2 linked regions of the Homo sapiens genome follow. The protein of the gene in region 1 interacts with the protein of each later gene in a pairwise test. Each region holds a gene or a part of one and is shown in the gene's direction. Other genes may lie near its edges.

Region 1 (7,002 bases):
ATATGGTTCCAGTATCGAGGCACAGACAGATACTGTTAAACATCGAAAATACTTCCTGGAAAAACAGCTTAACGATTAATTTAGTCCATGAAGAGATGAACAAAAATAAAGAACTTGCAAATGGAAAAAAAAGCCTTGGTAAGAAGACTAACGATGACCATTGAATTCATTTTAATTCAGAATATTTATCAACTAACTATGAAGTTATGTTTACAAAACAGAATATGAGTGTTATAAACATGGATAATGTAACAATAATATGTAACTAAACTTAGGAAGCAGGTCAGTCAGAGATGGAAAGAATCATGAGAGCGAATTTTTCAAAGCAATGAACACACTGAACACACATACACACACACACACTCATATGTCACTGAAATGTGCATTTTAAGAAAATAACTCTAACCTCAGTGTTTTTTACAATTTTTGTTTAACCTCAGAGGTATCTTTTAGGAAGTAATATCTCTTGTGGTCAAGAAACATTCTTTGAAGTTCAACTCTTTCTTCAGTTTCAACTTCTTTGTCTTCTTTTAAATTCAAGTAAAATTAAGTACTTTTAATTTAAATAGCATCTGTATTATGGCCCAGATTCCTATAAAGTATCTCTATTATCTTTCCTCCTATCAGTAAATATACATAGAAAGTTTTCTGGAATGATATAAATGTAGTGTTCATGATGGTGATTTCTGAGTGGTGGGATTGGGATAATTTAATATTCTCTGTATTCAAATTATTTAAAATGTACATATATCACTTAAAAACATGAAATTTTTCTTTAAAAGGGGTGGAAGGCTAAGAAATTATCTGTGGCTGATTCTGTTGGTGTATGGCTGATTATTTTCTTGCTTGTCATTTTTTATATTTTAATTTTCTAATAAACAAAAATTTCATAGTATTAGAAAAAAAGATTTTCAGGCATCTCACTGGAACGGATAGTCCAGAAACAGACTTGGCAGAGATGGCTGCAGCCTCCCAACATCTGCTCTCCTCTAACATTTTATGGACTTTTTAGCTGTGCACATGATAGCCAGAATAAAGACCCCATTTTCCAGCTCTGGCCAATAGCATGTAAGCAGAAGTGCCACATGGCAGCTTCTGGAATCCTCTGAGAGTTGGCTCATTTGCACTGTATTACTATCATTGCCTCTTGCTGCCTGGAATGCAGATATCACCATATTGGACCATGAGAGCAAGACCACGTAAGGCCAAGCAACAAGAAGAAAGTGTGCGTAGAGAGTCACATAAGCCCTGGACTACCTACCTGGACAATGTAAGAAAGGAAGACATTTCTATCTTGTTGAAGCAGCTGAACATAATCCTAACTGATGCACAACCTGCACACACATACAGAAATGTCGTCTGTGATACCATTTGCATTGTACATCAGAGGGGAAAGATGAAACAACTGGTTTGGCATACACATACACAAATTGCCTAGATGTGAAGGAGTTAAAAAAAAGTTTTTAAAGAAAATTTATTCTTTTCTCACAAACACAATATCTTTGTGAAGTTAGGGAAGGGTCTTTATTTTTAGAAGCCAAAGTAAAAATAATAAATAAAATAACAAGTACACTTGACAACATCAAAAATTTAAACTTCTACATGACAAAAGAAAGTATAAACAAAAGTAAAAGACAAGCAAGAGGCCTGGAGGGCAGCATTTCCTGAAGCGAAGTCTTGTCATGTTCAAGTTCAGTGTGGTGCTGGGTATGTATGCAGGGTAGAGACAAGGGGCAACAAAGTGTGGGTAGAGCTGTATATTCCCCTTTCTTTTGCACAGAAAATGCATATTAGCTGATCAAAAGCTGAGGACTTCTACAGAACCCTGTCTGTGTATGGAACTCAGCATTCCCCAGTTATTTGACGGTGAGACCAATCTTTTTGTGGTAAAATCTATGAACTAACCTCTAGGTGTATACGAAACACTCAGAAATGCTGCCATAAGAAATAACACTTTGCCATGTGAGAAATGATCGTTATATTCACCTTTTGAGCCCTCATAGATAATTCTCACTCTTTTATAAGTTCTGACCAGCAGCAGCATAAAATGAGAGAAATTTCGGCATTGTGGAATAGGAGGAAATTCTCCTGTTTACTCCTACAGAGCAGAGTGAATATATCCCAAAAGAAGGAAGTCACCTGTACTCTGAGCTTTTCCTTCTCATAGCCACTGGCCAGGACTGTAAGAAGTACATGTTTTGAAATATTTCCGATTAGAGATAAAAGACCATTTTGAAGATAATTTAGGGCTAGTCCCAGAGAGTTGTAATGCAGAACTGCCATACGGATGGCAGTTGGTCGTGATTTCTTGTTAGTTATAGGGAAAGAAAAAGGAAACAGTAGATACAGTCTAGGATGATCAATTCAGTATTGACCACACATTCTCTGGGCTCTGAGATTAAGGCCCTTGTAGTCTAGAGAGGGAGATTTTATTTAATATTATATTTTAAGTACAACTTAAAGCCCTTTACTTATGTTATTTAATCCTGTAACATAGGTGCTATACTTGTTCTCATTTTTAGGACCAGGGAAGGGAGGCATAGTTAAGTAACTTGCCTAGCTAAGGTTAAAAAGCTAGCAGGATTCCACCAGGAAGGTTTGCCATAGATCCAGCTACCCTAACCACTGCTCTGCTCTATTTCTTGTAGATAACTTTAATACAGCATGGGAAACAGCAACATAGAGAGAGGAGCAAAGTGAAAACATTGTCAGGAAGGTCCAGCGGGAAGTCAGTCCACCTTGGGGACAAGCTACAGTTTGCCTGGGAGAGTGAGGAGGGGAAAGCCAAATCAGGGTGACAAGGTCAAACAGCAGAGAGGGGGCTCCTCTTAAGCCAGGTGTGCTAAGTCGAACGTGGTCTTTAGGCACCTCCAGTCAGCACAAGTTTCTGAGTAGGAGAAACAGGTCAGGTTGCTTCTCAGCATACTGGGGTGAGGGGTGTGTGTGGAGGGTGGACCAACCTGGGATGAGGCCAGTGGGGGGTAGGGGGCAAACCTTGCCACATTCCCAGAAAGAGCAGAGAGAAAGGCAGAGGGAAGAGAAAGAAACGGGGTTTCAGAGGATTTGGGAGCTGCTTTTGTATAGATTGTCAGTGAGAAGGATACAGAACCTCCTGAGGCCTCCGACCCTGGCGTAAGTGTTAATTTTCTGAACGTTTTGAGCAGTGACATTAGCGGAGAGAACGTGCACGCACTGGGAGTGGTCATCCTCTTTGCACAATGGTGGAACCATTAAGACGTTGTCCCAAGCCCTTGGGACAGGCAGGGTGATGGACACTTGCAATCTGACGCCTTGACCGTCGAGCTCCGCTTTTCTATTGCAGGAATCCCAGCCTAAACTGCGCATCCTGCTCGTTGGTTGCACAAGGAGCCGAAGGCTGGTCCCTTGCCCGGGAAGGCCGCCTGGCCGGACGCGCGGGTCCCGCCGGGGTTCCCGCCTTAGCTCCGGCCGGAGCATCAGGTGGGGCCCAAGACACCCGCAGACTAGGCTGCCGCGGCCTCTCCCGGATCCGACGGGTCTCCCGCAGCTTGTCCACACTCTGGTTGGTGGTCCCAGCACATTTGCAGGCTCCAGCGGGTGGAGACGGCTTGGTGGGGGAGATCTCTAGGGCGCACGCCGTGCCCCACTTCCCCCTTACGGGAAAGGCTTTCCAGCGCGCGGACCCAGGAGACTCTCACCTAGGCTCGGCCCCAGGCTCCAGGGGACACGCAGAGGCCCGCCGGGCACCAGCCCCGAGCCCCCCGACACTGCCGTCCCGGTCCCCCAACGCGCGGACTACAAGTCCCAGCAGTCCCCGCAGCTGGCACCTCCCGCCTCGCCGCGGAGACCCCCGGCCGTCCAAGCGGCGGGGCTCCGGCTGCGCTCGTGGCCGGGCCGGGCGGGGAGGCCGGTCCCGCGGGCGGGGGCAGGGGCGGCTCCGCGGCTTCTCCCGCCGCCGCCGCCAAGGGGAGTTTCCAGGAAGTGGCCATATTGGATCCATTCAGCCGCAGCCGCCCGGGCGGAGCGCGTCCCGCAGCCGGCTGGTCCCTGTCGCTGCCCCTGCGCTCGTCCCAGCCCACCCGCCCGGTGCGGAGCTCGCCATGGCGGCCACCGACCTGGAGCGCTTCTCGGTGAGGGCCCCGCTGGGCCACGGCGCGCGCGGGAGGCGCGGGGCGCAGGAGGGGCCGCCCTGCAGCTGGCGGGGGGCGCGAAGCGGGCTGTCAGCGCCTCACGGCCGGGCCTCGACACCGGGCCAGCTCGAGGACCCCGGCGCGGGCTCTCGGCCGCGCTATCGGGGGGTCCCGGAGCGTCGGGCGGCCTGCCTTGCCGGGCGGCTGGTCGGGGTCGCTTCCTGGGGCGCAGGCAAGGCTAACCCCTTTCGCGGGAAGGAGCAAAGACCCGCCTGGCTCCGGGCAGGTGCGAAGATAGAGTGGCGCCCGCGGGGCCGCAGGTGAGGGTCCGGGACACTCCGGACCCTATCGCCCAGGGTGTTTCTTTCTGCACACTTGGGGAAGAGTCCTAGCCGCACAGGTGCTGCGGGATAGGTACAGCCGGGGAGGATGGAGGCCCCAGGATCCGAGAGAGTCTCCCACACGAGCCCAGGACAGTTGCAGACTTGAGTCCTGAAGACCCTTGGCCTGCTTTTCCTTCCTCCCCCGCTCCCCTCTGCCCCGCTCCCCACGCCGGAATCCTGGGTGCGACTCCAGGCAGGTCAGGCCTCAGTGGTCGGGTCTGCGGCAGCCATTCGCCAGGAGCTGGAGGGATTCCAGACTCAGCCCAGTGGGCGTTTATTTGGGCTCCAGTCCAGGTCCTCAGAAGGTTGATGTCCCTGGTGGTCCCTGCAGGGGTCTCACTGGGCCTGAGCCTGCCGACAGCCAACTTACTAAAGGCTTTCATAATTCACTCGCGGGAGGGAGGCCTTTGGGGGGTTGTATCTGGACATCCCCTGCTGTCTAAGGCTGGATCTGGGTGTGTCTGGGAGGCTAGGCTGTGACAGTGAAGGAAGCTGTGTCCTCTTGCCAGCATGTAAGGCCCTGGTCGGCTGGAAGGGGGAGGAGGGGGAGAAGGAGGAGGAGGAGGAGGGAGGCCCAGGGCTGTTGGAGGGAAGGGGGAATTCTGAATATGTGAACGATAACGAATTGGTTCTGGGGCTAAATAAGGGAGCCAGGACTTATGTAATTAATGCTATAAATACCGTCATCCCAATTTATATATGTAAATTTTCCATTTAATCTGAAAATACATTTCTTATTCTACTTTGGAAATGTGCATGACTAAAGCAGGAGCTCTTGGTTTCATAATTTCTAGACTCGGGTGTTTTATTCCCATTGGAGAGGGGGTCGTATGTCAGTTAAGTAAGTTTAAATACATGAGGAACAGATTCAGAGGCTGGGCTACTCAGAGATTCACTTCGCCCCGTATTATAAATTGGAATTTATGTACCGGAGGAGGGCAGTGCCTGAATCCTAACAGACCTGCTGATTAGCTGGAGGCCAAGAGACCCGTGAGTGCCTGGGTGTCTCTGCATGTGTGTCTGTGTGCATTTTCTGTGCCCAGCTGACCAGAAAGTTATGTCTGGGTCTTGTCTGTGGCCAGAGGTTTAACAGTTGATGTTGCAGGTGGGAGAGGTATGTAGAGAAACCAGAATCAGACAGCCTGATAGGAATCCTAGACACTCCTTGTTGGCCATGTGACCTTGGGCAGGTTATTTAACCCCTTGGTGCTCTCATGCGTATAATGGGATAGAAATATTTCTTCCCTCATAGGGGTATTGTGAGGATTCAACAAGAGAATCCAGGGGAGGTACTTAGCCCTGTGTCTGGCACATGGTAAGGACACAATAAATAATATATGCTACCTATTGTCCACGTGGATGTGAGGACTGGCCCCCTATGTAAGAAGGGAGCAGAGGATGCATTTGCCCTGTTCATGGCACTCTCTGTAGAGCTTCCATCCCTGCTCGTCCAGAGATGGTCCTCAGAGGGTTAGCTGAGAGGCCATGCTGTGGGCTGGTCAAGCCTTCCCCTGGGGTCCTGTGTTTGCTCTCGGACCATTCCTGTGAGGAGTTTTGGTATTAGCTGCGGGGTGGCCAGGGCACAGAGAGGGGACTGACTCAGGCAAGGGCGTAGAGCCTGAGCGCAGGGCCTTGGTTGCTATGCCAGCTTCAGCTGGAGGGATGGACACCTTCCACACCCTCTGCACTTTGGGCTGTCAGCCTCCTGGAAGGGCTTGGATAGGGTTGGATTTGGGTGGAGACCTTGGGTGGAGTTTGGCCTGAATTTAAGTCTGGACTCCATTCACCCTTCCTGGCTTGTCATCTTGGGAAAATCATTTCTGCCTTTATCTTGCTGTAAAATGGGCAGAGCCACACTGGTTCCTCAGAGAGTTTATGGAGGGTTAATTGCAGTCCGTGGCATGTTTGGAAATATGCTGAGGTGTCTCGCAAGCCCCAGGATGTGATGGAGCCATGACAGGTCTACACTGTCCCTCTGGCCAGCTCAGTGGTCAGTCTAGCCCTGCAGGCCTGAGAATTGTCCTGACCTGGAGCTTAGACGGCATACAGAGTTGTACTTTGAGATGGATGTGTGCTGGGTTCCTGTGTCCTCACATAGCATGGTGTACACACCACAGGCCAACAGCCTTGGCATCCTGACTGGGCTCTGCTCCACCCTAGATCAGTATTGGGGTAAGGGTTGGCATCCCCTGTGTGTGGGTGTGTGGAGCAGCCCTCTGAGGAGGGTGTGTTGCCTCTTGCCTTCCTCGGGCAGCCAGATTCCTGTCCACTCTTGCTGTGCCCCTCCTCCTAACTGGAACCTTGACTCTGGGGCTCAGCCCTTTCTTCCCCGAGGGCCAGCTCCGGTGTTTTCTCCTGCCAGAATCTCACAGGTTCAGACCCCGTGGTGAGCAACCCTTTAGGGCTTGGGGAAAGTGAAGCTGAGGGGGAGAGGAAGAAACGTGCAGCACACAGCCTCACACTGGCGTTCTTCCCAGCCAGTCACTTACCCCCATCTCTGCTTTATCCCC
Region 2 (7,000 bases), on another chromosome or scaffold:
TTGCAGAGCAAATGAGAAGACCTCCCTCTACTTGTGACACATCCTGAGCAGAGGCTTGGCATTGGCAGAGTTTCCTGGAAGGGTTTGTAGAGTGGTTGCTTTGTCTTGATGTTTGAATGTATGACTTTACATGTGGAAGTACTATTTTGACGTGGAAGGATTTTACTACTGCTAACATAGACATGATTAGTGGAAATCATTCAGTGTGGATTTTGTCGAAATAATTTTAAGCTTTTCTTTTTAATAGCATATTCTTATAGAACATTTTAAAGCCTAATTTTTTTTACGTGCAATGACATGATGCTCCTTTAATTATGTTGCATCGTAACTAGTATCTTCATTATAATTGGGCTTTATTTAATGGCAGCCGTAGTTTCTTTCACTACATTATTGGAAATGCAAACCATTCTTCCAGAAGGAAGGGGCTAACTACCCCTGTTAGAAGAGTGAACTTTGTAGGTCTGTGGAAGTGAGTAAAGCATCTCATGGGTTTTTCTTGTAAATTTTCAGTCTTTGCTTTTTCTCAGGGCATCTTTTCTTTGCAAAAGACCTAGTTTAGTACTCTGATTTTTCCGGTAGCACTTGTAATTATATTTAAATTTTTATTGTGTGGGAATAACATCATCTATTTTTTTCTACTCAGTGGTTAAAGGAAATTACACCAATTAGATATACCTGTGTTTCTATTTTTAAACATCTCTGGAGAAGGCATTTTCATAATGTCCTTTGCTATCATAGTGAGGTTCACGGACCTTCAACATTAGAATCGCCTGGAAGCTTGTTGCAAATGCAGATTCTTAGGCCCCACTCTGAACTCAGCCAATCGGAATCAACATTTTAACAAGACCTTTAAGTGAGTTGTATGCACATTAAATGAAGAAACTCTATTCTGTTCCTTCAGCAAAGGGACCTCAATATCAAAAGTTTCCTTCTTGAATTTTCCTTTCTTTTGCTGAAGTATCAGCACATTTTTTTCCTTGATGGTGGTGACAAAAGTGAGGCTCTCACTGTAAATTATTTGTTTAATACAAAATTATTTTATAAAGCTGTTCTTTAATTCTTGGTGGAAGAGTCCTATATACCATGGTTTATTTAGATTAATCAGTGTTTTAGGTTGTTTTGTAAAACACCTCTAAAGTTGAAAAACAGTCTTTTTCCCCTCTGGAAGAAAAAGGCATTGGTTTTGAGACATCAGAGCTGGAGCCTCGGAAGCTAACCCCTGAGCAAAGGGTCCTCTCTGCTCCCTCTGCTCTGGCATCTTGATGTCTGTCATCTGATATAGTCAATGTCCTGCCCTCTCGTCCAGTCTTTTCTTAGAGTTCTTTTTTGAATCAACTAATTGGTAGGTACAAAATAATGTTCCTAAAATATATGTTAAAGAATCGTAAACCAGCTGGGTGCAGTGGCTCACGCCTGTAATCCCAGCACTTTGGGATGCCGAGTGGGGGCGGATCACTTGAGGTCAGGAGTTCAAGACCAGCCTGGCCAACATGGTGAAACCCCATCTCTACTAAAAATACAAAAATTATCTGGGCATGGTGGCAGGCATCTGTAATTCCCAGCTACTCGGGAGGCTGAGGCAACAGAATCAGTTGAACTGGGGAGGCAGAGGTTGCAGTGAGCCGAGATCGCGCCACTGCATTCCAACCTGGGTGACAAGAGCGAGACTCTGTCTCAAAAAAATAAAAATCATAAACCAAGGGACACTCAGGCAGCCACCGGCTAGTTCAGGAAGAGCCTTATACATTCAGAGCCCACCTCCATCATCCCATCTGAAACAACCCATATCCTTGATTTTGTGCATATCATTCCCTTCTCTATGGTTTATCCTTTTTAAAAAATCTTGATTGTGTATGATTTTGAACTTTATATCAACAAAATTATACTTTATGTATTCTTCTGACTCACATATTTAGATTAAGATTCTATTCCCAAGGTTTATCCATTTCATGGCTGTATTTCATTCAGTTTCACCTGCTGTATAGTATTCTAACGTGATTTATTTATTCATTGTACTCTAGATGGAGATTTGGATTGATTCCAGGTTTTTTTGCTATTGTGAAAGGGTTGCTGTGAGTGGTTTTTGTACACGGCTCTTGGTACATATGTGGAGGCACACACACCCATTTGCTGTCTCTAGGGAATGAAATTTTCTGGCTCACAGGGCATATGCATCATCAGCCTTAGTAGAGAATGTAGAACTGTTTTTTACAAAGCGATTATGTTGATCGTGTTCCCACTAGCCATAAGTGTTACAGTTCCAAAGCCTTGCCAGTGCTTCACATACCAGGCTTGAAAATCTTGTCCAGTGAAACATTATCTCACTGTGATTTTTATTTACAATTTCTCTGATTATTGAGTTTGAATGTCTGTTTACATTATTAACCATTTGGGTTCTTCGTTTTGTGAAGTACCTGTTCAGTCTTTTACCCATTTATCTTATTAATTTGTAGTTCTGTATGTAGATTACTACTAATCCTTTGTGGATTACATGTCTTGCGACAATTACTTCTCAGCTTGTGTTTTTTTTCTTAACTCGAATTTGTGATTTCTTTTGATGATCGGTTATTTGTAATTTAGCAGAGTCATAATCAGTATTTTGTCCTTTAAAGTTTGTGAGGGTAATTTTCTTATTTCAGAAAAGTTTTTCTTTGTTTGGAAAGAGCATTCGTTTTGGAGTCAAACAGGTTGTGGGCCCAAATCCTAATGGTGTTGTATACTAGCCTTATGGCTACCACTAGGTACTGGCCTTGAGCTAGTTAGTTACTCAAGACCACAGTTTCCTCATTGGAAAAATCAAAATAATATTAGTTTCTCTTAGTTATGATACAGCAGTGTACAGTTCCAGGCACATAGTACGTATTTAGTTGATAACAGTTGTTTCCTTTCTGTTGGGACTGCCTAAGCACTATGACCCACTGATCCCTTTTGGTATGCTTTGCAAAAACTACCTAAACCTTTTTATGTCAGGAGAGCTATTAAATGGCTTATTCTAACTTTTGTATTTTAAAAGGCTGCATTACCAATGGCATTTATATATTGATTAATACAGTCTGAAGAGACCACTTACTAGAAACCCTTATCAGTTTAGGTTCTGGTTCTTGAAAGTAATGTAATTACATTTATTTGTACACAGTTCTTTTGACCATTAAGCATTTATAGTATTAATGATCTTCCTTTACTGCTACTCTGAGATTACTTTGTAATATTGTTTTTTATTTAATGAATAATTATTGGATACATTATCTTGCCAGGACTTGAAGTTGTTATGGTTTTGTGGACTGGCTTAAAGTTGAATAAGAATTAGTTCCTGAATGAAAGGACTGTATACTCTAGTATATGGAATATATTTTATGTACTATACACAGAAGGTAAAATACCTTTAACAGGCTGGATGTGTGACTTTGGCAAACCTTTAACCCTCCGGTCTCAGATCTAATTTTATAAAATGGAAGACTTAGATGAAATCATAGTGGGGGTTAAAACATGGCACATGCCATCACTCGCTTCTGTTCCTGGCAGACATCGAAAATCAGTAATGGTACTCTTTTTCCACTGAGCTGAGATAGTCTCAGTCATATTCTCGACATGGTGTTCTAGGCAGTAACTACCACTCGATTAAATCTGGCATTCAGTTTTTAAGCTCCTGTACACTTCTAAATTCTGTGATTATAAGATACTTGAGAAACTCATCACCTTGGCAGTGTTCAGAATACAGTGAGACTGGAAGAAACTAGAAGCAAGGAGACAGGAGAGAGGTGACTGGGGGTCCAGAAGTAAAGGGAGCAAGTTACAGTGGTGGCCAAGGGAACAAGGAGAGGAGAGATGGGAAAATGGTTGTGAAGGCCCAATCCTATGCGAAGCTATTTGTAGGGTAAATGGATGGCAGGATGGATGGGAGGTGGACCTAGTGGGTGACGAGCTAAGCTAAGGTGATAAAGATTTCAAATTTGAATAATGACAATGAGCATGTTTGGTGATGATGACAAATAGACAAGTCAAGTGCATGATTGGATATTTGATTGGGAAGAGTATCAGTTTTGCTTTAAACATGTTTGAGTTTGAGGTTCCAGCACAATCCTCAGTGGAGCTGGAGAGAGGTCATGGCTAGAGAGGCTGATGGGAGGCTTTGGATGGAGGGGCCCTGGGCCCCAGGCTTCAGGCTCTTTACACAACCCACCCACCTCGCTCACACGCTAAGTGACCTTGGGCAAACTGCCTAGACTTCTTTGTGTCCCTCAACATCTTCATCTGTAAAATAGTCGTAATGAGAGTATCTACCACATAGGATTATTAAAGCCAAATGAGGTAATTCAGCGCTTATCACAATAAATTTTAATGATTATAAAATGTGGAATTTTTGCTTAGTTTGACTTAATATTATGCTTTCTTTCAAATAAACAGTTTGATTTGTTTAGAAAAGGTATATTCTAGCAAATAACAATCATTTAGATAAATAATGCTAAGTTCCATCTGTATTAAACCTGTTCCTATACATCATGTCAAAATAATAGGAAAGGAAAATCTGATTTATATATATGTATTTTTTAAACAAACAATAAAATGCTAAAGCCTTAGTAGCTAAGGAAATGATATGAGCAGATAGTTTATAAAAGAAGAAATCAAGGAGGTCGATAACTGTAAGTTCAAACTCACCAGTGTATGAAATACAGACTAAATTAATTAATTTTTCCACTTAATGGATAGATATTATGCTCTGGGCTGCTGTGAGATGGGAGCTCTGCATCACCTGTTGAGAGCATATTTTGATTAATACAAACTTAGGGGAAAACAGTTGGGTTATATATATGTAACAGAAGCCTTAAATGCTTATACCTCTTGAACTGAAATCTCACATGTAGCTTGGTAACCTACAAAAACAATTAAAAATAAGGACAAGTTTTTAAACAAGGATTTTCTTGGCAACATTAATAGAGAAAAGGGGAAATGTTTTTTAATGGAACATAATCAAATAAATTATGGCGCAACTGTAGGGTGGAATTCAATGTAGTGCTTAAAATAATGGTTTGGAAGAATATTACTGAGATGGGAAGATGCCGGTAATACAGGGGTTAGTGGAAATATCTGGATGCAAAATTGTATAGTGTACTATAATCCTGGTTTTACTGTATTAAGTAAAAGACTGGAAGGAAATACATTAAAATGTTAATGGTTTGCTTTGGATGGTAGGTTGATGGGTGATTTCCTCTCTTGTATGAAAGGAAATTCCCATGACTTAATGTTTCTCTTTTTGAGTTTTGAAATATTTCACGGTAGAGAAGAATGCAGTAAATAATATAATAGATGACCATGAGGACCATTTGTTTTGGTTTGTTTGAGGAACTTTTTTTTGTTTTATTTTGTTTTCTTTTGTTTTGTTTGAGACAGAGTCTTATTCTGTTGCCCAGGCTGGAGTGCATTGGCACGAACATGGCTCACTGCAGCCTTGACCTCCTGGGTTCAAGCAGTCCTCCTGCCTCAGCCTCCCAAGTAGTTGCAGGCGTGTACCACCACACAGGGCTAATTTTTAAACCTTAAATTTTTTTATAGAGACGAGGTTTCACCGTGTTGCCCAGGCTGGTCTTCAACTCCTGAACTCAAGTGATCTGCCTGCCTTGGCCTCCCAAAGTGTTGGGATTACAAATGTGAGCCACCGTGCCCAGCCTTGGGCACCATTTTTTAATAATCAAAAAAGCAATCAACACTTTAAAAATTCTAATTTTTAAAAAGGAAAGAAAAAAGTAAATCTGTCCAATTGTAGATCATTATTAAGAAATAGTTTTAAATCCAGCGATTGTTATATCTGTCCTTCTTTGCAGTTTTCTAAGAGCAATGATACAGTGTGTAAGTTAGCATCTTAAGGGTATAGGTGTGAGATAAATTAGTGTATTCAAATGTATTAATTCTCTACACTAACCTAGGCAGCTTGAAAAGAGCAGAGGACCAGGGTTCTTTGGTATTTCCAGTCTCCACACTTGAGTGCAGAGCAGTGGAATTCCATGACGTGCATGTTCTCACTCGTGGAAACCTAAACACTGCTACTGGAGCTAGTTTGTAACCATTAGACCATCAGGTTTCAGTGGAATTGGTCAGAAATGAAGGTAAAATTCCAAGTGAACATTTTAAAATAAAAATCACTTCAGATTTAGATTTACTTTCAGTGAATGGTATCTCAGCATCTGGGAATATTGTAGGCTAAGATTGAGAGGAACTAATTTTAATATTCTTCGTTTTTTGTATGAAAAGAAATTCCTGTGCAATGTTATATTTTTGTATATATACATATATGATGCATACATATCATGTTTATCTCATATATATATATATATATATATATATATATCTCACACATGGGAGAGAGAGGTGTGTGTTTGATTGAGTAATCTCTACCACGAAGGGAGGCACATATTTTAAAACATTTTAAATGGGGAATTTTATAGAGACAGTATTTTGAAAAGGAGTCCCATGAATGAGTCAAGTTGTCCTTAGCCAGTGGAGGAAATGTTTGGGAGGGAATAGTACTTTCTATTTTATGGTCCAAGTCTCTAAGTGTGTTGGTACTTTGTGAAATGTAGCTTATAAAAATTAATGAATTTCCATTAATTTTGTATTTTTTCTGCCATCAGCTTTAACTGAGTGGTTGTTTGAAGAAGCTTTCAGGATTAATTGTGCTTTGACATATAAAAATAAGATGTTATCAAGATTGCTTTAAAACTGACCCTTGTTTATAGGAGTCATACGTCCATTCTTAAGAAACTCTCAACTGTGACAGTAAACATCTGAGTGATTTTTAGAACCATTTTAATATCTCTGCTCTAGAATCGAGAATGCCCTGTTAGTTCTGATTTTTAATATACAAATTTGAAGCCACTAGTTAGGCAGTAAAATATGTATTAGAACATAACTATAGATTTTTACCCAATAGATCAATTAGTATGAAATTTAGGATGATATATAAGTACAACAGAATTTATTCCTTTGAGGTATGTATTTTCAAAGT

The links.
Region 2: the proteins of SEPTIN8 (region 1) and SPTBN1 interact in a two-hybrid assay, tested with the Homo sapiens proteins (one study listed by BioGRID).

The regions. Positions count from the first base shown.
Region 1 is NC_000005.10:132,774,215-132,781,216, reverse strand, and holds the start of SEPTIN8 (septin-8), read left to right. Parts: upstream 1-3,977; 5' UTR 3,978-4,079; coding exon 4,080-4,109; intron 4,110-7,002. UniProt on the Homo sapiens protein: Filament-forming cytoskeletal GTPase. May play a role in platelet secretion. Seems to participate in the process of SNARE complex formation in synaptic vesicles.
Region 2 is NC_000002.12:54,459,327-54,466,326, forward strand, and holds part of SPTBN1 (spectrin beta chain, non-erythrocytic 1), read left to right. Parts: intron 1-11; exon of another isoform or gene 12-82; intron 83-7,000. UniProt on the Homo sapiens protein: Fodrin, which seems to be involved in secretion, interacts with calmodulin in a calcium-dependent manner and is thus candidate for the calcium-dependent movement of the cytoskeleton at the membrane.